Linked DNA regions of Homo sapiens. The protein of the gene in region 4 purifies or fractionates together with the protein of the main gene of each other region. This does not show direct contact. Each region holds a gene or a part of one and is shown on either strand. Other genes may lie near its edges. The genes, in order: TOM1L1, TPM1, SNX3, STAT5B, AARS1, TPM4 and DDR1.

Region 1 (3,500 bases), about 13 Mb from region 4:
AATTGAGACTAACAGAAACAGATTTATTTCCGAGATGAAAATGGCTATTACATAGCATAGGCAAGATTTGATCCCAGTCCTCAGATTCTAAATTCCATGCCCTTGCCTCATGCCACTTTGTTTCTAAGAACGAATCAAGCCTCTTAAAAGAGTAGGCTACTGTGTTTCCTTTATGTCTTTAGTTTCTTCCTGTGTAGTACAGGGCCAGGTATATCAGATGTTGACTGGATTAATGATTAAGCACCCCACCCTCATACACACACCTAATCCCGTCTCTCCTAGTATCCGGGAAGACTCAAGGGCTAATGGAAGGTACTGTAGAACCGGAGTAGAAAGATGTGTAGATGTACCCTCAAATATAGTATATCTGGGATATCTCAAGGGTGCCAAAGGTTAGGAGAATTGAGTAAGGAAGAGAAGGGCAGAAGATGAATTTATGCCCCCTTCTCTATTTCAGCATGGGGTATTATTATTTTGCTTTTTACAGGTGTTCACCATTCATAACAATTTGCCGCTTTCTCCATTGTGCCCAGCCTACTTGATGTTTCAGTGGTTGCTTCTTAATCCCACCTCCATATCTTCTTCCATCATGGTTCCCTCCCTGTGACGACGGACCAGGGACCCTCCTTGAGGAAGTTGGGCTATTCCAGAGTGTTGTGCCTCTGGCCCTCTGTTTCTCTTTGGGCTTCCACTCTTCCTTCTCATCAGGTAGTCTAATCTGCTCGCTGCCTTTCCCATTATCTGTTCCACCTCAGATCTGTAGCTCCCTTACCTCGTGGTTTCTGTCCAATCTAAAGCCTGTGCCTAAAAACAGGCAAGAGTCACAAGTCATAGGTCAGAATACACCTTCATCCTTGGGGTCACAGTACATTAAAGTCAGGAAAAACATCTGGCTTTTCCTTGGATTTTCTTTAAATAGGCCTTTGACTCTTCATATCTTCATGCTGATTTCCCTGAGTTGTGTATTTAATGGTCTAGTCACCTCGTCTCAGACTACTCACTGCCTTGCAGAGGTATGCTTAAGGCCTCAGAACTGACTTTAATATTCACGTAAGCCAAATTTAATTATGAGGGAAATTAGTCACAGGAGTCACCTATGTCTGTCAAAAGCAATTATAAGTTTACCAGTAAACTCTTTAAAATGTAATCCCTATATATGACATTTCCATTTTATTAATGTAAAGTGATGAGAGCCTGTCAAATTCGATTATAAATATTCTTTATGTTATCTGTCATGTTGAGTTCTCCGTGGACGTGTTAGCCTTGATTGGGCTTTGACGGAACCTGACTGTACTATGATTTCCTACCATCAGTCGGTGGAGCAGTTTTGTTTTGTGTTTCAGCAGAATTTTGTTACCAGGCTTTATTACTCTGAGCCAGAGAGTATTCTGTTCTTGAATGAGTCAATTGTGATAAATCTCAGCAAGAGGCTACTATTATTGTCAAATGGAAAGTGGTCGAACAGGTTCCTGAGAATCAATTAGTTAATAGGCCTTTGTGGAGCACCCCCTAAGCAGTGAGCTTCAGGGGTTTCATAAAATGTGTAAAATGTGGTTGAAAATAATAATGAAGAAAAAGCTTGGTTTATTCTCCTTTGGCAAATTTACCAGTGAAACAAAATATCAGGCTGGGTGCAGTGGCTCATGCCTGTAATCCCAGCACTTTGGGAGGCCGAGGAGGGTAGATCACTTCAGGTCAGGAGTTAGAGACCAGCCTGGGCAACATGGTAATACCCTGTCTCTACTGAAAATACAAAAACTAGCCAGTCATGGTGGCATGTGACTGTAATCCCAGCTACTCGGGAGGCTGAGGCAGGAAAATTGCTTGAACCCAGGAGGCGGAGGTTGCAGTGAGCCTAGATTGTGCCAGTGCACTCCAGCCTGGGTGACAAAGCGAGACTCTGTATCCAAGCAAAACAAAGCAAAACAAAACCATGTGGTTGTCCCCCCAGGAGCTTGTTGCAGTTGGAGGGAGTGAGAAGACTGAGGCCTGTCCTAGGGGTGTCATCATAGAGTGGGGTAGTCACCTTGGTGTAGGCACTATTCACGGCCCAGGTGTAGCTCTGATGGCCCTGAAACCTGGTTGTTGTCACTCTGCCTGGTTTGGAAATTTACAGTGAGAAAACTGTCAACTACCTCTTTTTCTTCCAGCCCTCTCTTAAAATACTTAGATCAGCTAATCATCACATTCACTCCTGCTAGGAAGTTCTCCATGGAAGATGATCTAAATAGTTGCCATGTATTGAGGTCCTGCTTTGTGGCAGGCTCTTTGTTATGTTTCATTTGGGCCTTACAACAAGTCTCTAGAGGGAGATATTATGTCCATTTTGCAGATAAGGACACTGAAGCTTAGGATAAGTGATTTGCCCAGCCAAGCCCAAAAGATCAGTGAAGCCTGGAGTCACCCACTTCAGTCTTTGTTCCTTGGCTCCTGAGTTTTCAATCCCACCTCAGATTATGGATTCTTATTTGTCTTATTTCGAAAGATGGGTTATCTGAACACATTTGCATCAAAGTTCAATTTCAGAATATGTGAAAACATATTTAATTTTTCCAATTTGCCACGTAGGTTTTATTACTTATCTGAGTGAGTTGGAGGGTGAAAGAGGTTCTGGTGACATAATAGAGGAGGTGATGTAGAATTAATTAGTCCTGACATTCTTGATTCTAATGGGAAAACACAAAAGGCATGACTGCTAATCTCCAGATGTTCACATTTTTAGCATTTCATGTTGACTCTTTGATTTTGTGCATGTACCTCCTGGGAGTCTTACCCATTATCATAAAATCTTGTGGCACCAAAGATAAAAATTAGTTTGTGAGGGCCAGGTGCAGTGGTTCATGCCTGTAATCCCAGCACTTTGGGAGGCCGGGGTGGATGGATCACTTGAGGCTAGGAGTTTGAGACCAGCCTGGCCAGTATGGCGAAAACCCATGTCTACTAAAAATACAAAAATTAGCTGGGCATGGTGGTGCACGCCTGTAATCTCAGCTACTTGGGAAGCCGAGGCATGAGAATCACCTGAACCGGAGAGGCAGAGGTTGCAGTGAGTCGAGATTGCGCCACTGCACTCCAGCCTAGGTGACAGAGTGAGACCCTGTCTCAAACAAACAAACAAACAAAAATTGGTTTGCGAATTATTTAGCAAGAAATACACCTAGGGAGAGTGAGACTTGGAGGCTAGGTATTTGCGTAAGACGGTACAACTAGTTAGGTGAAATATTTCTGTAAACTCACATTGAGCTAGAAGCACTTTTCCTTTTAGGATTTCGCCCGTTAAAAATTCATTATAATAATCCATCAAGCTAAATGGCATGTTATTCAACTTTCCAACTTTGTCTCACCAAACTGTACAGATTCATCTTAATATGTTTTGGATTTTGTTTTTATTTTTCTTTGCCTTAAAGGTTTTCCCTGTGTTTCACACAGCTGCATGTTTCTATATTTTCTGATTATTTCTTGGTCACAGTGCCTTAAAACTATAGCGTTTTAAGTATAAC
Region 2 (3,500 bases), on a different chromosome or scaffold from region 4:
ACAGCTTGACAGCGCCGCGTTCTGCTGGAAGAGCTAAACTATAGTGCAAAACCCTTAACCCGTCCCTTTTTTCAGCAGTCCTCCTCCCCTTTTCTCTCATACAGATAGATAATGCTTTGTTACCAAGTCTTGGAAAAAGTTGGCGAAATGTCAACAGTTATTGGGTGTATTCTCTTGCGGGCTTCCCCTCCCCCTTGTTAAATGTAATACCTGGCTTCCTTCCTTTCTTCTAAGGCAAATGTATCCAGCAAACACGAACAGGATTTCAGAGGTAGTCTAGTATTGGATATTTGTCGATTTTGTGTGTGTGTGTTTTTAATGAAGATACTGAAACAAACACCTTGGGAGTTTTATGACAATTGATAGTATGATGTCCTGCTGTGCTTAATATACGGGGTTGTTCTGAGTTGAGTAAATCGTTCTAGTTAAGTGTTTGTAAATGGCTGTATGGCTGGCCACAGAAACTTCAAGACCTGAAATGGTCCTCTTCAGAGGAAAGCTCAACTAGAGAAAGTTTCAGATAAAATACAAGCAGGAATAAGGAAATTAATAGGCAAAAGATAATTCTCAGTATTTGCTTTATAGGACGAGTCAGCAAAAGTCCTGTGGATATCCCTGAACTTGGCTGGGTGGTAAACTAATTCCGACTCCCTTACTCGCTAGTAGCTGTCCTTGAACCATTAGAACTATATAGAATATGATGGATAAAAACAAGAACTTTGGACCCAGACTGTCAGAACTTGAATCCTGTCTCCACTACTTACTAGCAGTGGGCAAGTTACTTAATCTCTGTGTTTCAGTTCCCTGTGTGTAAAGTGTGGATAGTAACAGCATCTACCTGTCGGTTAAAGGAGTTACTATGTAAAGACAGTACACTGATGCTTGGCGCAAAAGGGTAAGTGCTGTGTGCCCGCTGTCATTAAAACTGCACAGCCCTGGCAGCCCAGTGCTCCTTCACCTTCAGTTCCCCACCCAGCAAGAGGTCTTAAAGATGGCCTGCTCATTTCATGACATCATAAAACACTTCATTTACTGCTTTTAATCAACATTTGTTGGGGCGGGGGGCTTGAATGAAGAGGAAGTGGGCGGGCTGGTAGGCATGTTTGATGGGTTAAAGTGGTATCAGTGGTAGAAGTCTGAGGTCTCCTCACCCTGCTAAGAAAGAGTATGTGTGACCCTATGCAGGAGAGCCTTGTATTGGCTCCTGGCCTAGTGATTGATGTTAGACACAAAAGATAAATTTTATGAAGGGCACATTATTACTTTTATTCTTACCTTCTCTTTTGCACGTCGTTTTTATAACAGAACTCTTCCTGTGCCAGTTGGCTAAAGATAGTACTTTCGTTCTTTTCACGGCTTTATATCAAAAGTAGTTTAAGTAGTTTCAATTTTTTTAAGTAATCTTTGCAAACAATCTACCTGGGTGATTGATTGAACACAGAACCTTTTAAGACAGCAACTTGAAGACTGGATCAGACCATTGAAGAGAGACTTTCAGGCTGCAAGTTGTTCCTAACTTCTGAAATTGGAACTTAAATGTAGCTGACTTAGGTATTTAGATGTAGCTTGGGCTGTGAGTTAAGCTAGCAGTAACAGTTTCTTTTGGCAGCAAAGATAAAGGTTTAGTGACAAAACCATGAGCCACTGCAAAAAATATTTGACCAGAGAGTTGGCCTAAATTCAAATACTCAGACTGTAATTAATAGGCCCTATTAAACCAGCCCTTACCTTGGAAAAAGCAGCCATCCCTTACTTCCTCCTAGTCTGTGTTTCCAAGGTGTGTGGATCCTTCAAAATGTTGGAATGAGGCTACTTTGCTTGACATGATTGATTCCAGATCTTGTGACCCACTAGGGTTATGTTTGCTTTTTTTCATTATTTAAAGAAAAAGGCAGGATGAATCTTCCTTTCTGAGTAGTATCCAGCAAACAAGGAGACAGGGAGTTGTGGCCAGAAGGTTCTTAATTAGTAACATGATTAAATCATGGGAAATAACCAATTTACAAAAATTCCCAGCACTTTCCCTCTTTACACTTGGTAAGTATTTCCGGGATAGGAAAACCGAGGGTGCATTTTGTGCTTGCATTGGCACTCCCAGAGTGGCTGTTAACTGGAATGTATACTCTCGATTTCCGCTTTCATATGTAGGCAAGGCAGAGGCACTACAATGCCTTGTTCATGTCTGTTCTCCCTCATTATACAAATATGCTTCATAAATTATGGGCTTTGGCACACACAGGAGGTTGTGTTTATCTGTTATCCATGGGAGTGCCCCTTAATGTCATCAGTGTTTTTTTTTTTCCCCCCTTTCCTTACCATATAAGGGCAGAAGTTTAGCTTGGCTGTGGTCACTTGGCCTTACACAGCAAGTTGGGTGAAACCTTCTTCGTATAACTACAGTTTGCATGAAATAAAAAGACCTGACCTTTGATCATCCCAAGTTCCACTCCAGTTCAGTCAGGACTTTGGAAACATATTCCAGAGGATTGATTTCTAGATTATAATATTCTCCCACCAGTATTTTTTCTTAATAACCTTAACTGGAATACTTTTTTAAAAAGTAAAAGTCACTGCCATTTTTAATTTTCTGTTGTTGTATTGGCTAAAACATCTGGATTTCATGAAAATCTAGGCCTCATAAAAGTTGTTTTTTTTTTTTTTTTTCAAATCTGATTTGGGATAATATTATACTATGGTGGGGTGGGCATGCCCTTGATTTCTATATAGTACCATGTTGGGGTGGGGGAATGGGGTGCATGCCCTTAGAGGAGGGTCATATGCATTGTAAGGCACCTCAAGTACAGAGCACCAGGAAGTTACTTAAAAACATCTGCAGGAGGACATTGGTAGCCTTTACTAATACAGCAGTCTCTTTTTTGAGTAGTTCATTGTTAGAACACAATAGCACTTTTGAAATAAAAGAAACTAGCATCCCAGATTGAAAGACTTCACTGGCAGTCAGCACATGGGCTGCTGTTAGAAGAAAGCTAACTTGGCTGGGTGCAGTGGCTCATGCCTGTAATCCCAACACTTTGGGCGGCCGAGACGGGTGGATCACCTGAGGTCAGCAGTTCGAGACTAGCCTAGCCAACATGGCAAAATCCCATCTCTACTAAAAATACAGCAATTAGCCGAGCATGGTGTCACGTGCCTGTAATCCTAGCTACTGGGGAGGCTGAGGCAGGAGAATCGCTTGAACCCGGGAGGTGGAGGTTGCAGTGAGCCGAGGTCATGCCACTGCACTCCAGCCTGGGAGACAGAGCTAGACTCCATCTCAAAGAAAAAAGAAGAAGAAGAAGAAAGCTAACTCAGTACACTAAGAGTGATTTACATGCCTGCAAATAATTTGTGTCTGGGGTCTTGACCCTCCCCAAATGCCTTGTTATTTATATCTCTGCTTTTAGATAACAGATGGTCATGTGTCTATGGGCTTGTACCGGCAGAGGCAACAGCAGGTCCTTAAGACTCCCCAGGTGCCATGATGAAAAGAACCTTAGAAA
Region 3 (3,500 bases), on a different chromosome or scaffold from region 4:
CAACTCCTGGTCTCAAGTGATTTTCCTGCCTCAGCCTCCCAAGTAGCTGGGACTACAGGCATGAGCCACCATGTCCAGCTAATTTTAAAAAATTTTTTGTAAGGATGAGGCTTCACTATGTTGCCCAGGCTGGTCTTGAATTCCTGGCCTCAAGTAATCCTCCTGCCTTGGCCTCCCAAAGTGCTGGGATTACAGGCATGAGCCACCACACCTAGCTGAGAAGTGTCTTGATACATAGGCTTTGGGCTTTGCTTGACATACCATGTGGCACACTGGAAATGTTTAATAAACGTTTGCTGAGTGTATATTTTGCTTTTTTTTGTAAATTTATTTATTCATTTTTTAAAAATTTTTAGTAGAGACGGGGTTTCACCGTGTTAGCAAGACGGTCTCGATCTCCTGGCCTTGTGATCCGCCCGCCTTGGCCTCCCGAAGTGCTGGGATTACAGGCGTGAGCCACCCCGCCCGACCGCTTTTGTTTTTAGTAACAGCTTTATTGAGATATAATTCACATACCATGCAATTCACCCATTTAAAGTGTATAATTCACTGGTTTTTAATATGTTCACAGAGTTGTGCAACCATCACTATTTTAGAGCACTAGTCAATTTTAGAGCATTTTTATCACCCAATAAAAGAAACCCTGTCCCCATTAGTAGACACCACTGATTTCTCCCCAACCCTTCCTCACTCAGCCTATGGCAACCACCTGCTAGTCTCCTTTCTCTGTGGATTTGCCCATTCTGGGCATATGTAAATGGAAGCCCACAATATGTGATCTTTTGTGTCTGGCTTCTTTCACTTAACATGTTTTCACAGTTCATGCTTTTCTAACATGCATCAATTACTTCATTTCTTTTTATTCCTAAATAATATCCTATTGTATGCTTATACCACATCTTATTTATACACTTATTTGGTGGACATTTTGTTCTACTTTTTGGCTGTTATTGGTAGTGCTGCTGTGAACATTTGTGCATAGGTTTCTGTCTGCATGTGTTTTCATTTCTTTTCAGTATATACCTACCAGTACATTGCTGGGTCATAACTCTTTTTAACCTTTTGAGGAATTGGCAGACCGTTTTTCCAAAGCAGCTGTGTAATTTTACATTCTTACCAGCAATGTGAGGTTCTACTTTTCTCCACATCCTTACCAATTGCCTGTCTTCTTTATTATAGCTATCCTACTGTTTGTGAAGGGGTATTGCATTGTGGTTTTGATTTTTATTTCTCTAATGGCCACTAATGTTGATTTTCTTTTCATATACTTACTGGTCATTTATGTATCTTCTTTGGAGACATCTTTATTGAGAGCTTTTGCCTTTTTCAATGGGTTCATCTTTTTATTATAGAGTTATGTCGAGAATATATAAGACTCTTAGAGTTCCCTATCAGATACATAATTTGCACATATCTCCCAGTCTCTGGGTTGTTTTTCACTTTCTTGATGTTGTCCTTTGAAGCACAATACTTCACATTTAACATTAGACCAGTTAAATATATTGAGAGTTAAATCCATGTGAAAGTTTTACTCGTATTACAGTATTGCAAAGAACAATGTAATCAAGTTATTTTGTGGTATATTAGTACTTTTAACTAAGATCTGTTAAACTAAGCTAGAAATTAGCTGACATGTATTATGGTCAGATCTTTTAGCTTTTATTCTAGTTTGCTTTAGCTTTCAATATATTGTGCTCACCAGATATTCTCCTATTTCTCACCCCACATGCACGCACATATCTTTGCATTCATGACTTTTTAATTAGTATTAGAATTTTTTTTTTTTTTTTTTGAGACGGTGTCTAGCTCTCGCCCAGGCTGGAGTACCGTGGTGCAGTCCCGGCTTACTGCAATCTCTGCCTCCCAGGCTCAAGCAATTCTCCTCAGCCTCCTGAGTAAAGGGGTTACAAGCATGCACCACCATGCCCGGCTAATTTTTTGTATTTTTAGTAGACACAGGGTTTCACCATGTTGGCCAGGCTGGTCTTGAACTTCTGACCTCAGGTGATCCACCCACCTTGGCCTCCTGAAGTGCTGGGATTACATATGTGAGCTACCGCACCCAACCTGGTGTTAGAATTCCAGTTAGGTGTTTTCAGACTGCTTCAGCAAAAATAATTTGATGTAGAAGAGAATCTTAGCTGGATGAGCCATTTATGATTTTTATAGATCATTAATCCTGTTGCCTACCACCTCCCCATCCATTTGAATGACTAGTTTGAATATGTTAGGAAGAGTGTATCTCTACAGAGGATAATGCATAGCTATCCTTTTCTTAAATTCCCATTATATATGAAATTTATATATATTTAATTATATATATATTGTTACATTTTTTATCATTTTCCTTCTTTCTTTAACTGACATCCTTGAGCTATCCTTTTCTTAAGTTTCATGCTAAATTCTACCCTGAATTAATGGTGGTCATTTATTTAACACAGTGGTTCCAGAATTCTTTTTTTAAATAATAATTGTGTAGATACAGATATTTTTCCCTGCCCACCAGATAGCCATTCTACTGGAACGTAATGGTTAGCATTCCTTTGTTTCTCAGTTATAGAAGGTCCCTGCAGATTTTAACTCTCAACTAAACAGATGTTAACATGGGGGTGAGATCTGAGAATGCTAGCATAAATTTACGGAGACAAATCCATAGATATCTTCATCATTGGTCATCTGAGGAGAGTAAATCTAGGAAGGGATTATAAAGTTTATTTGGACATTTGGTTTTTTTGTTTTTATTTTGTTTTTTGTTAATCTATATGAAGTCGAGTTGCTCTTTCCCTTTTTTACCCTATTGAATTTTGTTTGAGGATAAACAACTCGTTGTAGAAACTATATCAAGGGTTTAAAGTTTTAATTTTTTTGAATATGTGTAATTTGTATTATTGGTGAAAAGAAAAATATGTATCAGTTTACTATATATATTTCTCCTTGTTCTGATTGTTTGCTTACACATTTCTCTGTTTGCGTTTAAAGTAAGGATCCAGCTAAGTGGTTGGTCATTTAACAGATATTTGAGCTTCTGTTGTATGCCCAGTTTTTCTTAAAATAACCACAAGAAGCCTAAGACAGGGGTCTTGATTTGAAGACATTAGTATGATAGATTGATGGTTTTCCACCAAAGGCAGTTTTATCCCCCAGGAGACGTTTGACACTGTCTAGAGACATTTTTTATTGTCTCAGCTGGGGGTGCTATGTTGTCTAGTGGGCAGAGGCTAGGGATGCTGCTAAAGAAAAGAATGCCAGCCTGGCCAACACAGTGAAACACCATCTCCACAAAAAATAGAAAAATTAGCCAGGCGTGGTAGCACGCTATGTACCTGTAGTGTCCCGGCTATTTGGGAGGCTGATGCAGGAGGATCATCTGAGTCTGGGGGAGGCTGCAGCGAGCCATGATCGCACCACGGAACTCCAGCCTGGGTGACAGAGCAAGACCCCATCTCAAGAAAGAAAAGAATGCACAAGAAAGCCCCCCAGTACAAAACTTATCTGATTCT
Region 4 (2,357 bases):
GACTTAGATTTGTATTGAAGTACATAGTTTCCATGGTTTGAAGAATTTATTGAAACATCCAAGCCAATTTGGAAGATATCTTGAATTTCAGTTTTAGTGCTGACCTTCTCCTCTACCAGGTCTTCCTAACAGATTGAAATATTAAATGCTTGGCCAAGTGCGGTGGCTTATGCCTGTAATCCCAGCACCTTGGGGGGCCAAGGTGGGCAGATAACTTGAGGTCAGGAGTTAGAAAACAGCCTGGGTGACATGGTGAAACCCCATCTCTACTAAAAATACAAAAATTAGCCAAAGTGTGGTGGTGTACCTGTAATCCAGCTACTCAGGAGGCTGAGGCATCGGAATCATTTGAACCTGGGAGGCGGAGGCTGCAGTGAGCCGAGATTGCACCACCGTACTCCAGCCTGGATGAGAGAGTGAGACTGTTTCAAAAAACAAAACAAAAAAATATTAAGTGCTTGTGTCATATCCTTAGATAAGTTAGGTGGTTGTGTTCTGTCCTAAGAAAAGATGTGATTCATAAGGAAGATCACATTTTTGTTTCACTTGAGAACTTTGATTTACTACATTCTTCCCTTGGCAGCTAAAGCTGTTGATGGATACGTGAAGCCACAGATCAAGCAAGTGGTCCCTGAGTAAGTGTCCAGGTGGCTGTGGCTCTCCTTCTGCCTCTTTCCTCCTCCCCCAGACCCTGCCTCCCATCCTTATCCTGGCCCAGCTTTCCGCTCCCCCGGGGAAACTGTCTCAGCCCTGGGGAAGGACCTGGGCTTGGTGATGCTATGCCAGTACCTGAGGCCCCACTCCTGTAGCTGGAGCCCCAGGGCCGAGTGGGGCACTTTGTCCTTCTACACCCTGAGAAAGACAAAGATACCCCTTGGTCCCCTCCCCAAGTCAGCTGCCCTGGCCTCCCTGGCAGCTGAAGCTCTGTTCTCTTCCTTCTGCAGGTTTGTGAACGCATCTGCAGATGCCGGGGGCGGCAGCGCCACGTACATGGACCAGGCCCCCTCCCCAGCTGTGTGTCCCCAGGCTCACTATAACATGTACCCACAGAAGTAGGTGGCATTCTTGTGGGGGTCCACAGGGGAGGAACTGGGGGCTTGGCCCCAGGCTGGACCCCTGGAGGGCTGGGGTCAAAGGAATCCAGAGCTCCTCTAGGTCTGAGACCACACAGCCCTGGCCCGGGCTCTGGCCTTTGGGAGGGAGAGATTTGACCAGAAGTGATTGGTGGTTTAGAGTCGGGTTGGGCAAATGTCATCTGTTCCCCTCTCTCAATATGGAGATTTTTCTTGCTCTAAGGACTGAGTGGAGTTGTGATGTGTCTGGACAGCCGGTGTGAGAGGTAACAGGGGAGGGTATTTCAGTCTGAGTTGCTGTACAGCCAGCTGTTTGAATGGTTGTTCTTTTCCCATGAAGCCCCAGGCTGAGGGCATAGGCTGGCTCAGACTGCTCCCCTGGTGGCCTGTGGGGCTTGGGGTGGTCTCTGGCAGGCTTTCCCCTTCCCTTCATCCCTCTTCTTTCCCTCCCAAGCCCTGACTCAGTCCTTGACACCGATGGGGACTTCGATCTGGAGGACACAATGGACGTAGCGCGGCGTGTGGAGGAGCTCCTGGGCCGGCCAATGGACAGTCAGTGGATCCCGCACGCACAATCGTGACCCCGCGACCTCTCCATCTTCAGCTTCTTCATCTTCACCAGAGGAATCACTCTTGTGGATGTTTTAATTCCATGAATCGCTTCTCTTTTGAAACAATACTCATAATGTGAAGTGTTAATACTAGTTGTGACCTTAGTGTTTCTGTGCATGGTGGCACCAGCGAAGGGAGTGCGAGTATGTGTTTGTGTGTGTGTGTGTGTGTGTGTGTGTGTGCGTGTTTGCACGTTATGGTGTTTCTCCCTCTCACTGTCTGAGAGTTTAGTTGTAGCAGAGGGGCCACAGACAGAAGCTGTGGTGGTTTTTACTTTGTGCAAAAAGGCAGTGAGTTTCGTGAAGCCTGGAAGTTGGCCATGTGTCTTAAGAGTGGCTGGACTTTGACATGTGGCTGTTTGAATAAGAGAAGGACAAAGGGAGGAGAAAGCACATGTGCTCCAGTGAGTCTTCGTCACTCTGTCTGCCAAGCAATTGATATATAACCGTGATTGTCTCTGCTTTTCTTCTGAAATGTAGATAACTGCTTTTTGACAAAGAGAGCCTTCCCTCTCCCCCACCCCTGTGTTCTTGGGTAGGAATGGGAAAAGGGGCAACCTACAAAGATTGTTGGGGCAAGGGAAGTCACAAGCTTTCGGATGGGCGGTGGCTTTTCACAAAACATTTAGCTCATCTTATTCTCTCTTTGTCCTCTCTCCCCTCCTGCCCGCCC
Region 5 (3,500 bases), on a different chromosome or scaffold from region 4:
AACACCTTCCAACCCAGCACCACTTGGCTGCAGACTGAGCATGAGTTTCCTTCCATTAAAGTCTTTGAAGTGCTTTTTCCCCTAGATCAGTGGTTCTCAAGTGGGGGCGAGTCTGCCTTCCAGGGAGTAATTGGCGATAATGTCTGAAGACATTTTTGATTTTCACAACTAGGGGCAGATCCTGCTGTCACGTACTTGGTAGAGGCCAGGGTGCCCCTCAGCATCCCACACTGCAAGAGAAGTTTCCACAACAGAGAATGATCTGGCCCCAAATGTCAGTAGTGCCAGGATTGAAAAACCCTGTTCTGGCAGTTTATGCTGGGCATAGTTTAGCAAGTTCCAGTCCTTTGGAGTCCCTTTTCTCCTACTTTACGGTAACTTATGCTTGTTTCTCTTGCTGACAGCTGAAATCACAGGGCAAGGGAGCTGGTGGGGAAGACCTCATTATGCTGGACATTTACGCTATCGAAGAGCTCCGGGCACGGGGTCTGGAGGTCACAGATGATTCCCCAAAGTACAATTACCATTTGGACTCCAGTGGTAGCTATGGTATGTTGCTGTGCTCCTTCCACATCTGAGCATTCTGCCCCGTATCTGGGGGGTATTTGAAAGATTGTTTCTCAAGATTAGCTCTCCAGCAGACTGCTGACAGCCTCTCCTGGAGTGCCGTACAGTCACGCTATGCACTTTTATACACATAGGCACCCTTGGCTGGAGGTTTTCTTAACTCTATTTTGAAATAATTATTGTCACAGGAAGTTGTAAAAAAAAAAAATTTGTAGGAAGGGTCTCACACCCTTTTATCCAGTTTCCCCTAATTGTAACATCATGCAGGAAACTGGGCAATTGACATTGATACAATCCACAGTGACTATCAGAATGCTATTAGGGGCCTGGCGCTGTGCCTCACACCTGTAATCCCAACACTTTGGGAGGCCGGGGCAGGTGGATCACCTAAGGTCAGGAGTTTGAGACCAGCCTGACCAACATGATGAAACCCCATCTCTACTAAAAATACGGAAATTAGCCGGGCGTGGTGGCGTGCCCCTGTAATCCCAGCTACTCGGGAGGCTGAGGCAGGAGAATCGCCTGAACCTGGGAGGCAGAGGTTGCAGTGAGCCAAGATCATGCCATTGCACTCCAGCCTGGACAACAAGAGTGAAATTCCGTCTCGGGGAAAAAGAAAAAGAATGCTATTAGGATTCTATTATCCTAATGCTGTTAGAATGCTATTATCCTAATAGCATTCTTTTTTTTTTCTGAGATGGAATCTCCCTCTGTTGCCCAGGCTGGAGTGCAATAGTGTGATCTCGGCTCACTGCAACCTCCACCTCCTGGGTTCAAGCGATTCTCCGGCCTCAGCCTCCCAAGTAGCTGGGATTACAGCCACGCACCACCACACCCGGCTGATTTTTGTGTTTTTAGTAGAGACAGGGTTTCACCATGTTTGCCAGGCAGGTCTCAAACTCCTGACCTCATGATCTGCCTGCCTTGGCCTCCCAAAGTGCTGGGATTACAGGCGTAAGCCATCTCGCCCGACCGGATAATAGTATTCTAAAGTTAAGAAACAAAGCCAGTGCAATGACTCATGCCTGTAATCCCAGCACTTCGGGATGCCAGGGTGGGCTGATCAGTTGAGCTCTGGTGTTTGAGACCAGTCTGGGCAACATGGCGAAACCCTGTCTCTACCAGAAATACAAAAATTAGCTAGGTGTGGTGGCGCATGCCTGTAGTCCCAGCTATTTGTGGGGCTGAGGCAGGAGGATCACTTGAGCCTGGGAGATTGAGAGGCTGCAGTCAGCCATATTTGTGCCACTGCACTCCAGCCTGGGCTACAGAGTGAGACCCTGTCTCAAAAAAAACATAAAAATAAATTGGCAATACATGTTTTTGCAGCTTTTTTGCCCTGGTAGAGAACAATCTTTTTTTTTTTTTTGAGATGGAGTTTCGCTCTGTCACCCAGGCTGGAGTGCAGTGGCGCATTCTCGGCTCACTGCAACTTCTGCCTCCCAGCTTGAAGTGATTCTCCTGCCTCAGCCTCCCAATTAACTGGGATTACAGGCATGTGCCACCACACCTGGCTAATTTTTGTATTGTAGTGGACACGGGGTTTCACCGTGTTGGCCAGGCTGGTCTCAAACTGCTGAGCTCAGGTTATCCACCCGTCTCAGCCTCACAAAGTGCCAGGATGACAGGTGTGAGCCACCGTGCCCGGCTGAGAACAATCTTACACCTAAATCTATTCAAGCAAGCCTACAAAATGAGTACATTCTTTGTGAGTTGACCTTGGACTAGGGAATTTATTACTACTCTTAAAGATCTACTAATCTGATGCACCAAGTTTCTGTTCAGTAGCTCAGAGTTAGGGTAACCCATTGTCCCAGTTTTAACACTGAAGCCTGCATCCCAGGAAACCCCTCAGTCCTAAAAATTGGGACAGTTGGTCACCCGACAGAGTGTTGCATTCTTTGATGGAAAGCCAGCATGCGAAGCCCTTTGTTGTTGTTGTTTTTTTTTTTTTTTTTTTTTTTTTTTTTTTGAGACCGAGTCTTGCTTTGTCACCCAGGCTGGAGTGGAGTGGCACAATCTCGGCTCACTGCAAGCTCCGCCTCCTGGGTTCACGCCATTCTTCTGCCTCAGCCTCCTGAGTAGCTGGGACTACAGGTGCCCGCCACCACACCCGGCTAATGTTTTGTATTTTTGGTAGAGACAGGGTTTCAGCGTGTTAGCCAGGATGGTCTCGATCTCTTGACCCCGTGATCCGCCTGCCTCGACCTCCCAAAGTGCTGGGATTATAGGGGGAGCCACCGCGCCCGGCCGCGAAGCCCTTTCATATTGTCTAATGAGTTTGCTTCCAAAATACAATTGGACAATTAGGAGCTAAGAAGAGTTTGCGAAAGAGAATCCAGCAAAAGTCAGCCAAGAAGGAGTGAAAAGGTCATTGACCCCACTGTCCCCTTTCTATGCATTTCCCTTGAGCAGTATTTGAGAACACAGTGGCTACGGTGATGGCTCTGCGCAGGGAGAAGATGTTCGTGGAAGAGGTGTCCACAGGCCAGGAGTGTGGAGTGGTGCTGGACAAGACCTGTTTCTATGCTGAGCAAGGAGGCCAGATCTATGACGAAGGCTACCTGGTGAAGGTGGATGACAGCAGTGAAGATGTGAGCCAACAGTTCTTCCTTGTTAGCCGAGGAGGGCCAGGCGTGGAGCCGGGGAGCTGCTTTTGCCCCACAGTGCTCCAGGCCTTGGGAGCAGACCTGACACACCTTTGGGTTGGGTTCCATGGTATTTCTGAAGCCGAGGGAGCTGTTGCTTGTACCTGTTGCTTTCCTGGCCATCGGGTACCCTCGTAGGAGTATTTTTGCAGCCAGGGTACAAGTTTCCTACAAGCTTTGCACATTAAAAAGGAGAGGCAGCTCTCTGAAGGGGAGATGTCCTTGTAGAAAACTCAGCCTCGAGCTCTGCCGCTGCTGAATGAGTTACTTTGTCTCCCTAGGCTT
Region 6 (3,500 bases), on a different chromosome or scaffold from region 4:
CCGGGCTGGAGTGCAGTGGCGCCATCTTGGCTCACTGCAACCTCCGCCTCCTGGGTTCAAGTGATTCTCATGCCTCAGCCTCCCGAGTAGCTGGGATTACAGTCGCGGACCACCACACTCAGCTAATTTTTGTACTTTCAGTAGAGATGGGGTTTCACCATGTTAGCTAGGCTGGTCTGAAACTCCTGGCCTCAACTGATCCGCCCACCTCAGCTTCCAAAAATGCTGGGATTACAGGCGTGAGCCACTTTGCCCGGCCCAGGCTATGCTTTGCTTTTTTTTTTCTTCTTTCTTTTTGAGACGGAGTTTCGCTCTTGTTGCCCACGCTGGAGTGCAGTGGCGCCATCTCTGCTCACTGCAACCTCTGCCTCACGGGTTCAAGCAATTCTCCTGCCTCAGCCTCCCAAGTAGCTGGGACTACAGGCATGCGCCACCATGCCTGGCTAATTTTGTATTTTTAGTAGAGACAGGGTTTCACCATGTTGGCCAGGCTGGTTTTGAACCCCTGACCTCAGGTGATCCACCCGCCTCGGCCTCCCAAAGTGCTGGGATTACAGGTGTGAGCCACTGCACCTGGCCCAAGCTATGCTTTTCTAATGATCAAAAACATACCAATTTGTCCCAAAATTTCAAATAGTGCATCTGGTTCTCCCCTGCATCCTACCACCACTACCACCTCAAATTATCACAGATAATTGACATTTAGATGTTCAAGCCACATCTTCCAGACTACCCCTTGAACCTGGAAATGGCATGAAAATCTCCAACTAGATCCTGAATTTTCGGTATCCATTGTTATTCCTCATCCTATTTTTTTGTCCAGGTGGGAAGCTCTGTCCCCATTACTCTCTCTATTCATCCATTCCTCCAAAATGCACCTCCCCTAAACCACCTCCACCTTTCCACCCTCAGCCTCTCCCTGCTCCTAACTGCCGTCCATCCTGAACTTCTGCAAAAACCATTCCCCTCACACATTGCCATATATATGCCCTTGGAAAGATTACAGACTGTGTAGGGGGCTGGTTTTTGTTTGGAGTCTGTGTGTTTGTCCCTGGAATTTCTCCAGGCATTTCTGGACTCCACCCTTTGAAGTAACTATGCAGCCTGTCTATCCAGTTATTCTACCTAACTAAGCACATAAGTGGAATTTCAGAGATTAGTGCTATGGCCGGGCACGGTGGCTCACGCCTGTAATCCCAACACTTTGGGAGGCCAAGGCAGGCAGGTCACTTGAGGTCAGAAGTTCAGGACCAACCTGGTCAACATGGTGAAACTCTGTCTCTACTAAAAATGCAAAAATTAGCCGGGCATGGTCATGGGGGCCTGTAATCCCAGCTACTGGGGAGGCTGAGGTGGGAAAATCAATCACTTGAACCTGGGAGGCGGAGCTTGCTGTGAGCCAAGGTCGAACCTTTGTACTCCAGCCTGGGCGACAGAGTGAGACTCCGCCTCAAAAAAAAAGAAAAGAAAAGAAAAGAGATTAGCACTATGGAGGTCTACACTATCTGTTGATAGTCTGTGAGCCTTGTCGTGATTCTCAAGGGCAGTTAACACTTTCAGGGAAAGTCATTTTATCTCAGACCTAATAACAAAATAGATGCTAAAGCATCTGAGTGACAAGATGAAGCGAAGTCAGGATTTGTAGTCAAGAGACCAGGGTTTAAGGCCTGGCGCAGTGGCTCACACTTGTAATCCCAGCACTTTGGGAGGCCAAGGCAGGCGGATCACTTGAGCTCAGGAGTTTGAGACCAATCTGGGCAATATGGCAAGACCCCATCTCTAAAATTATTCATAATAATATTTTATTTTTAAAAAATTTTTTAATAAAATAATAAATAAAGAGACCAGGATTTAAAATCCTAGCTCTACTACTTTAACCATGCCAACGTGAACAAGCTGCTTAGGTTTTCTGCAAAATAAAGGTGATATCTCTGTTATGAGGATTAAATGAGATAATGGAGAAACTGGCTCGTCCAACATAGTCAGCATTCAGTTAACATCTATTCACCCAGACTGGATAGGCCCAGGTCACTGATCTGTCTGATAGAATCCTCCCAGGTCATAGTCACTTGACTCTGTGTGTGTGTGTGTGTGTGTGTGTGTGTGATGGAGTCCCACTCTGTCACCCAGGCTGGAGGGCAGTGACGCAATCTCGGCTCACTGCAGTGTCCGCCTCCCGGGTTCAAGTGATTCTCCTGCCTCAGCCTCCTGTGTAGCTGGGATTACAGGTGTGCGCCACCACACCCGGCTAATTTTTTGTATTTTTAAGTAGAGATGGGGTTTCGCCATGTTGGCCAGGCTGGTCTCGAACTCCTTACATCAAGGATCCATGGTGTCTCATGCCAGTAATCCCAGCACTTTGGGAGGCCGAGGTGGGTGGATTGCATGAGACCAGCTTGGGCAACATGGCGAAACCCCATCTCTACTAAAAATACAAGAATTGGCTGGGTGTAGTGGCACGCACTTGTAGTCCCAGCTACTTGGGAGGCTGAGGTAGAAGGATCACTTGAGCCCAGGAGGTCAAGGCTGCAGTGAGCTATGATCATGCCACTGCACTCCAGCCTGGGCAACAGAGCAAGACCCTGTTTAAAAATAAATAAATAAGAAAGGCTGCCATCTTCTGCAGTCATTTTTTTCTTTCTGTAAATTTCCAGGCTGATGATATCACATTTTATGAGGCATTTTGCTTTCCCCCAGCATTTTAATGAGTCTTGGCCTTGTCCCTTATCAGCCATCACTTACTGCAAACTAAGTTCTCTCTCGTGCTCTGTCACGCATAGCTCTAAATGGCGTCTTTTTTCTCTCTCTCTTTCTTTTTTAATTTAAATTGTTTCATCAGCTCAGTTACTTAATAACATGCCTGTAGAATGGCTTAAATTTCGCATTTACCTGGGGTTTGTCTCCGTTCTCCTGGATTCATAGACAGTTACACAATTATGTGTATAATTTAAACAGCCATTCCCAGAAGCTCCGAAGGAAAGATGGGTTACAGGATTTTAGATTTAACTATCAAAGGCTCAGGGGCTAATTAACTAGCACTTGGGTGGAAATTTATATTAAGTCACACATATCTAGGACTGAAATCTTCATGTAGCAGCACGTCATAGGTTCTGAAGTATTTCTCCTTTATTCCTCATCATAACCCCCACACCACGCATTGATATCGTTACCCCCATTTGACAGACGGGGAAAACAGACCTAGGAAGGTTAGATGCTTACTTAAGTGATACAACTGGAGCTTAAGTTCAGGTATTCTGACTCAAGGGTTACCAGAGTTCACAAGGAAAAATACAGGACACCAACTTAAATCTGAGTTTCAGATAAGCAATGAATAATTTTTTAATCATAAGTATATCTCTTGCATAAGTACATCTCATGCAACATTTGGGATATACTTACACTAAAATATTATTTGTGGTTTATCTGAAATTCAATTTAACTGGGCGCCCTGCATTTTATCTTACAACTGTGACTCCCAAATTTGGTGCTTGTTCCTTAGT
Region 7 (3,500 bases), on a different chromosome or scaffold from region 4:
TTGGGCCCCCCATGGTTGCCCGACTGGTTCGCTTCTACCCCCGGGCTGACCGGGTCATGAGCGTCTGTCTGCGGGTAGAGCTCTATGGCTGCCTCTGGAGGGGTGAGTGGCTCAGCTTCCTGGGAATCTGTTTCCTGAGCAGGGGACTGGAGGGTGGGGAGTGTGGAGAATGGGCATCCAGGATCCCTTCTCCTGCTGGGAAGCTGTCACTCTGAGGAGGGGGCTAGCCAGCATTGTCTCCTCCATGCCAATGAGCCAGTGGAGAGATACAAGAAGGGACCTGAAACCTGCCCAGGCCTGATGCAGGGATGGGGGATGGAGCCTTAGTGCCTCTGACCCCCATCCTCTCACCCTGCCCCAGATGGACTCCTGTCTTACACCGCCCCTGTGGGGCAGACAATGTATTTATCTGAGGCCGTGTACCTCAACGACTCCACCTATGACGGACATACCGTGGGCGGGTAAGAAAGGCCCCTGCAGGATATGGAGTTTGGGGTGGGAGGGAGGACTGTGTGTGTGTGTGTGTGTGTGTGTGTGTGAGAGTGTGTGTGTGTAGGGGGGCTGGTAAGTAGGGTGGGGAGTGAGATGGAAGAGCTGAGAAGAGGGATGGGTTAGGTGGGGCCTCAAAGGGTAGCACTAGGGTGACCACTAGCCCGTATGACACTGTATGAAAAAGGCACCCCTTTGCTAACACACATTGTTGGAAATTGCTGCAATAAATATACACATCATAGATTGAAATGGTGCCCCTTAGAGGTGGTGCCTTTGTGCTGGATGTGACCTGCAAGGTACCTGTAGTGCTGGGGTGGGGTGGAGAGAGGAGAAGGGCCAGCTGCATGAGTGTGAGGTGGGATGGGAATGGGACTAGTGGATGGGAGCCAGGCTGGCCATGCCACTGTGCCGGAGGGTGGCGGAGCAGAATGCCTGGATGTCAAGACCCTCTTCCCTTCCAACCTCCTCTTCCTTGGTCCCCTCTTCTCCAGACTGCAGTATGGGGGTCTGGGCCAGCTGGCAGATGGTGTGGTGGGGCTGGATGACTTTAGGAAGAGTCAGGAGCTGCGGGTCTGGCCAGGCTATGACTATGTGGGATGGAGCAACCACAGCTTCTCCAGTGGCTATGTGGAGATGGAGTTTGAGTTTGACCGGCTGAGGGCCTTCCAGGCTATGCAGGTGAGTGAGTCCGGCTCTCGAGGAGGGCTCTGAAGCCATGCAGGGTGCCGTTGGGGTGCCCCCACCACTCCTAGCCTTGACCCTGTGCCCTCTTCCCTTCCCCCCAGGTCCACTGTAACAACATGCACACGCTGGGAGCCCGTCTGCCTGGCGGGGTGGAATGTCGCTTCCGGCGTGGCCCTGCCATGGCCTGGGAGGGGGAGCCCATGCGCCACAACCTAGGGGGCAACCTGGGGGACCCCAGAGCCCGGGCTGTCTCAGTGCCCCTTGGCGGCCGTGTGGCTCGCTTTCTGCAGTGCCGCTTCCTCTTTGCGGGGCCCTGGTTACTCTTCAGCGAAATCTCCTTCATCTCTGGTAAGCCCTGGAGTAGCCCAGTCTCCAGTCCCTGAAATTGACAACTGATTTCATTCCTAACCCTGCAGTGTCCCTAAAATACTCATTCCTTGCATTATATCTACCCATCACCCACCGAAACTTCTCAATTAGGGGTGCCCCAAATAACTTGAGCCCCTTTCTGCCTCTTGTTCTCTGCGTATCCATCTTTCCTTTGTAAGCCCCTTGCCCGTGACTATTATTGAGCCAGTATGACAGTACTGGTTGTTAAAATATTGAAATACTTCTGTATTAGTTGAGAAATAGCCTCTTCTCTAAGCCTCCAGATACCTGTCCTCCACCTCCCCACAATCCAGCAACTATAGGGTTAACACCCACCACAGCTGGGTGTTCCAGGACCCTGCTCCCCCAGCCCCCACTGGTCAGTGGTTGCCTATTGAGAATCACCCATGCTTCTGCTCCTTTGCACAACAGTCCACTGCCTCTGCCTCCCTTGGGTCTCCTCCTCATTTACCTCCCTCCTTTCTTTTTGTTCCTTCTCCCCAGATGTGGTGAACAATTCCTCTCCGGCACTGGGAGGCACCTTCCCGCCAGCCCCCTGGTGGCCGCCTGGCCCACCTCCCACCAACTTCAGCAGCTTGGGTGAGCAATCTTGGGTGGGCGTGTGGACCCTCTGCACCCTTCTCCCTGGGCCTCCCCCTCGGCTAGGGTGGGACCCTCCTGTGGTGCTGACCCTGCTGCCTCCACCAGAGCTGGAGCCCAGAGGCCAGCAGCCCGTGGCCAAGGCCGAGGGGAGCCCGACCGCCATCCTCATCGGCTGCCTGGTGGCCATCATCCTGCTCCTGCTGCTCATCATTGCCCTCATGCTCTGGCGGCTGCACTGGCGCAGGCTCCTCAGCAAGGTGGGCACAGCCGTGGCATGTGGAGTGGCGGGGGGAGGCCAGGCCCCAGCACGAGCCAGCGTCCAGTGGGACCTGCAGGGCACAGCCCACTAGCATCCCAAGAGGAGGGCTTAGTAAAGAGACCACTTACACCATGTCAAAGAGGGTATGGGGCTCACAGGGAGGGCTGCTCCCCAGCTCTGGGTCTGCTCAGCGGAGAGGAGCAAATACCACGACCCAGAGGAGAGAGCCTGTGGAGAGGGCACCTTGACAGGGGCAGTAGACTTTGGTCCTGGGATGCAGCTGGCCCGTATCTACCCCTCAGGGAGGGCCTGGGAGAATAGATGCCCTGACCTCACTTTCTGCCCCAAACTCCTGCTGGGCTCCTCTCTGGCTAACCCAAACCAGGCCTGTTGGTGCAGTGTACACTGGTCAGCCTTGGGGCAGAAGCAGGGTAGAGACAGGCAGAGAGTGGGGTTGGAGGGGCAAAGGGAAGACGTCTGGCACACCCCAAGCCACGTCTTCCGGCTGGAGTCCAGTGGCAGTAATGTACATTAAGGTTGATGACTGGACACGGTGGCTCATGCCTGTAATCCTAGCACTTTGGGAGGCCGAGGCGGGAGGATCACCTGAGGTCAAGAGTTCGAGACCAGCCTGACCAACATGGTGAAATCCCATCTCTACTAAGAATACAAAATTAGCCAGGCATGGTGGCTGATGCCTGTAATCCCAGCTACTCAGGAGGCTGAGGCATGAATCTCTTGAACCTGGGAGGCGAAGGTTGCAGTGAGCTGAGATCATGCCATTTCACTTCAGCCTGGGCGACAAGAGCAAAATTCCATCTCAAAAAAACAAACAAACAAAAAAAAAACGGTTGATAGTTATGGACTGGGCAGATGAGGGTTAGAATCTCATTGTGGGACAGGGAAGTTACCTCCATGCTCTTGAGCTTCACTTTCTCTGCCTGTAAGATGGTGCTGATAGTATCCACAGCTGTAGGGCTCTTGTGAGGGCTGAGGGAGGGAACGCAGGGATGGACACAGCAGAGGGCCAGGCCGTGTGTGCTGAGCAACACGGGTGATGCCTCCCATCCCTATGACAAGGCTGAACGGAGGG

What was found.
Region 1: the proteins of STAT5B (region 4) and TOM1L1 fractionate together in Homo sapiens (co-fractionation; one large-scale study listed by BioGRID). This does not show direct contact.
Region 2: the proteins of STAT5B (region 4) and TPM1 purify together in Homo sapiens (affinity purification with mass spectrometry; one large-scale study listed by BioGRID and IntAct). This does not show direct contact.
Region 3: the proteins of STAT5B (region 4) and SNX3 purify together in Homo sapiens (affinity purification with mass spectrometry; one large-scale study listed by BioGRID and IntAct). This does not show direct contact.
Region 5: the proteins of STAT5B (region 4) and AARS1 fractionate together in Homo sapiens (co-fractionation; one large-scale study listed by BioGRID). This does not show direct contact.
Region 6: the proteins of STAT5B (region 4) and TPM4 purify together in Homo sapiens (affinity purification with mass spectrometry; one large-scale study listed by BioGRID and IntAct). This does not show direct contact.
Region 7: the proteins of STAT5B (region 4) and DDR1 purify together in Homo sapiens (pull-down; one large-scale study listed by IntAct). This does not show direct contact.

Annotation. Positions count from the first base shown.
Region 1 is NC_000017.11:54,907,352-54,910,851, forward strand, and holds part of TOM1L1 (TOM1-like protein 1), read left to right. Parts: intron 1-3,500. UniProt on the Homo sapiens protein: Probable adapter protein involved in signaling pathways. Interacts with the SH2 and SH3 domains of various signaling proteins when it is phosphorylated. May promote FYN activation, possibly by disrupting intramolecular SH3-dependent interactions.
Region 2 is NC_000015.10:63,049,247-63,052,746, forward strand, and holds part of TPM1 (tropomyosin alpha-1 chain), read left to right. Parts: exon of another isoform or gene 1-141; intron 142-800; exon of another isoform or gene 801-895; intron 896-3,500. UniProt on the Homo sapiens protein: Binds to actin filaments in muscle and non-muscle cells. Plays a central role, in association with the troponin complex, in the calcium dependent regulation of vertebrate striated muscle contraction.
Region 3 is NC_000006.12:108,216,041-108,219,540, reverse strand, and holds part of SNX3 (sorting nexin-3), read left to right. Parts: intron 1-3,500. UniProt on the Homo sapiens protein: Phosphoinositide-binding protein required for multivesicular body formation. Specifically binds phosphatidylinositol 3-phosphate (PtdIns(P3)).
Region 4 is NC_000017.11:42,201,035-42,203,391, reverse strand, and holds part of STAT5B (signal transducer and activator of transcription 5B), read left to right. Parts: intron 1-583; coding exon 584-635; intron 636-944; coding exon 945-1,052; intron 1,053-1,527; coding exon 1,528-1,654; 3' UTR 1,655-2,357. UniProt on the Homo sapiens protein: Carries out a dual function: signal transduction and activation of transcription. Mediates cellular responses to the cytokine KITLG/SCF and other growth factors. Binds to the GAS element and activates PRL-induced transcription.
Region 5 is NC_000016.10:70,262,007-70,265,506, reverse strand, and holds part of AARS1 (alanine--tRNA ligase, cytoplasmic), read left to right. Parts: intron 1-404; coding exon 405-549; intron 550-2,982; coding exon 2,983-3,161; intron 3,162-3,500. UniProt on the Homo sapiens protein: Catalyzes the attachment of alanine to tRNA(Ala) in a two-step reaction: alanine is first activated by ATP to form Ala-AMP and then transferred to the acceptor end of tRNA(Ala). Also edits incorrectly charged tRNA(Ala) via its editing domain.
Region 6 is NC_000019.10:16,096,995-16,100,494, forward strand, and holds part of TPM4 (tropomyosin alpha-4 chain), read left to right. Parts: intron 1-3,500. UniProt on the Homo sapiens protein: Binds to actin filaments in muscle and non-muscle cells. Plays a central role, in association with the troponin complex, in the calcium dependent regulation of vertebrate striated muscle contraction.
Region 7 is NC_000006.12:30,891,019-30,894,518, forward strand, and holds part of DDR1 (epithelial discoidin domain-containing receptor 1 isoform 2 precursor), read left to right. Parts: coding exon 1-102; intron 103-361; coding exon 362-461; intron 462-983; coding exon 984-1,170; intron 1,171-1,277; coding exon 1,278-1,524; intron 1,525-2,049; coding exon 2,050-2,145; intron 2,146-2,253; coding exon 2,254-2,405; intron 2,406-3,487; coding exon 3,488-3,500. UniProt on the Homo sapiens protein: Tyrosine kinase that functions as a cell surface receptor for fibrillar collagen and regulates cell attachment to the extracellular matrix, remodeling of the extracellular matrix, cell migration, differentiation, survival and cell proliferation.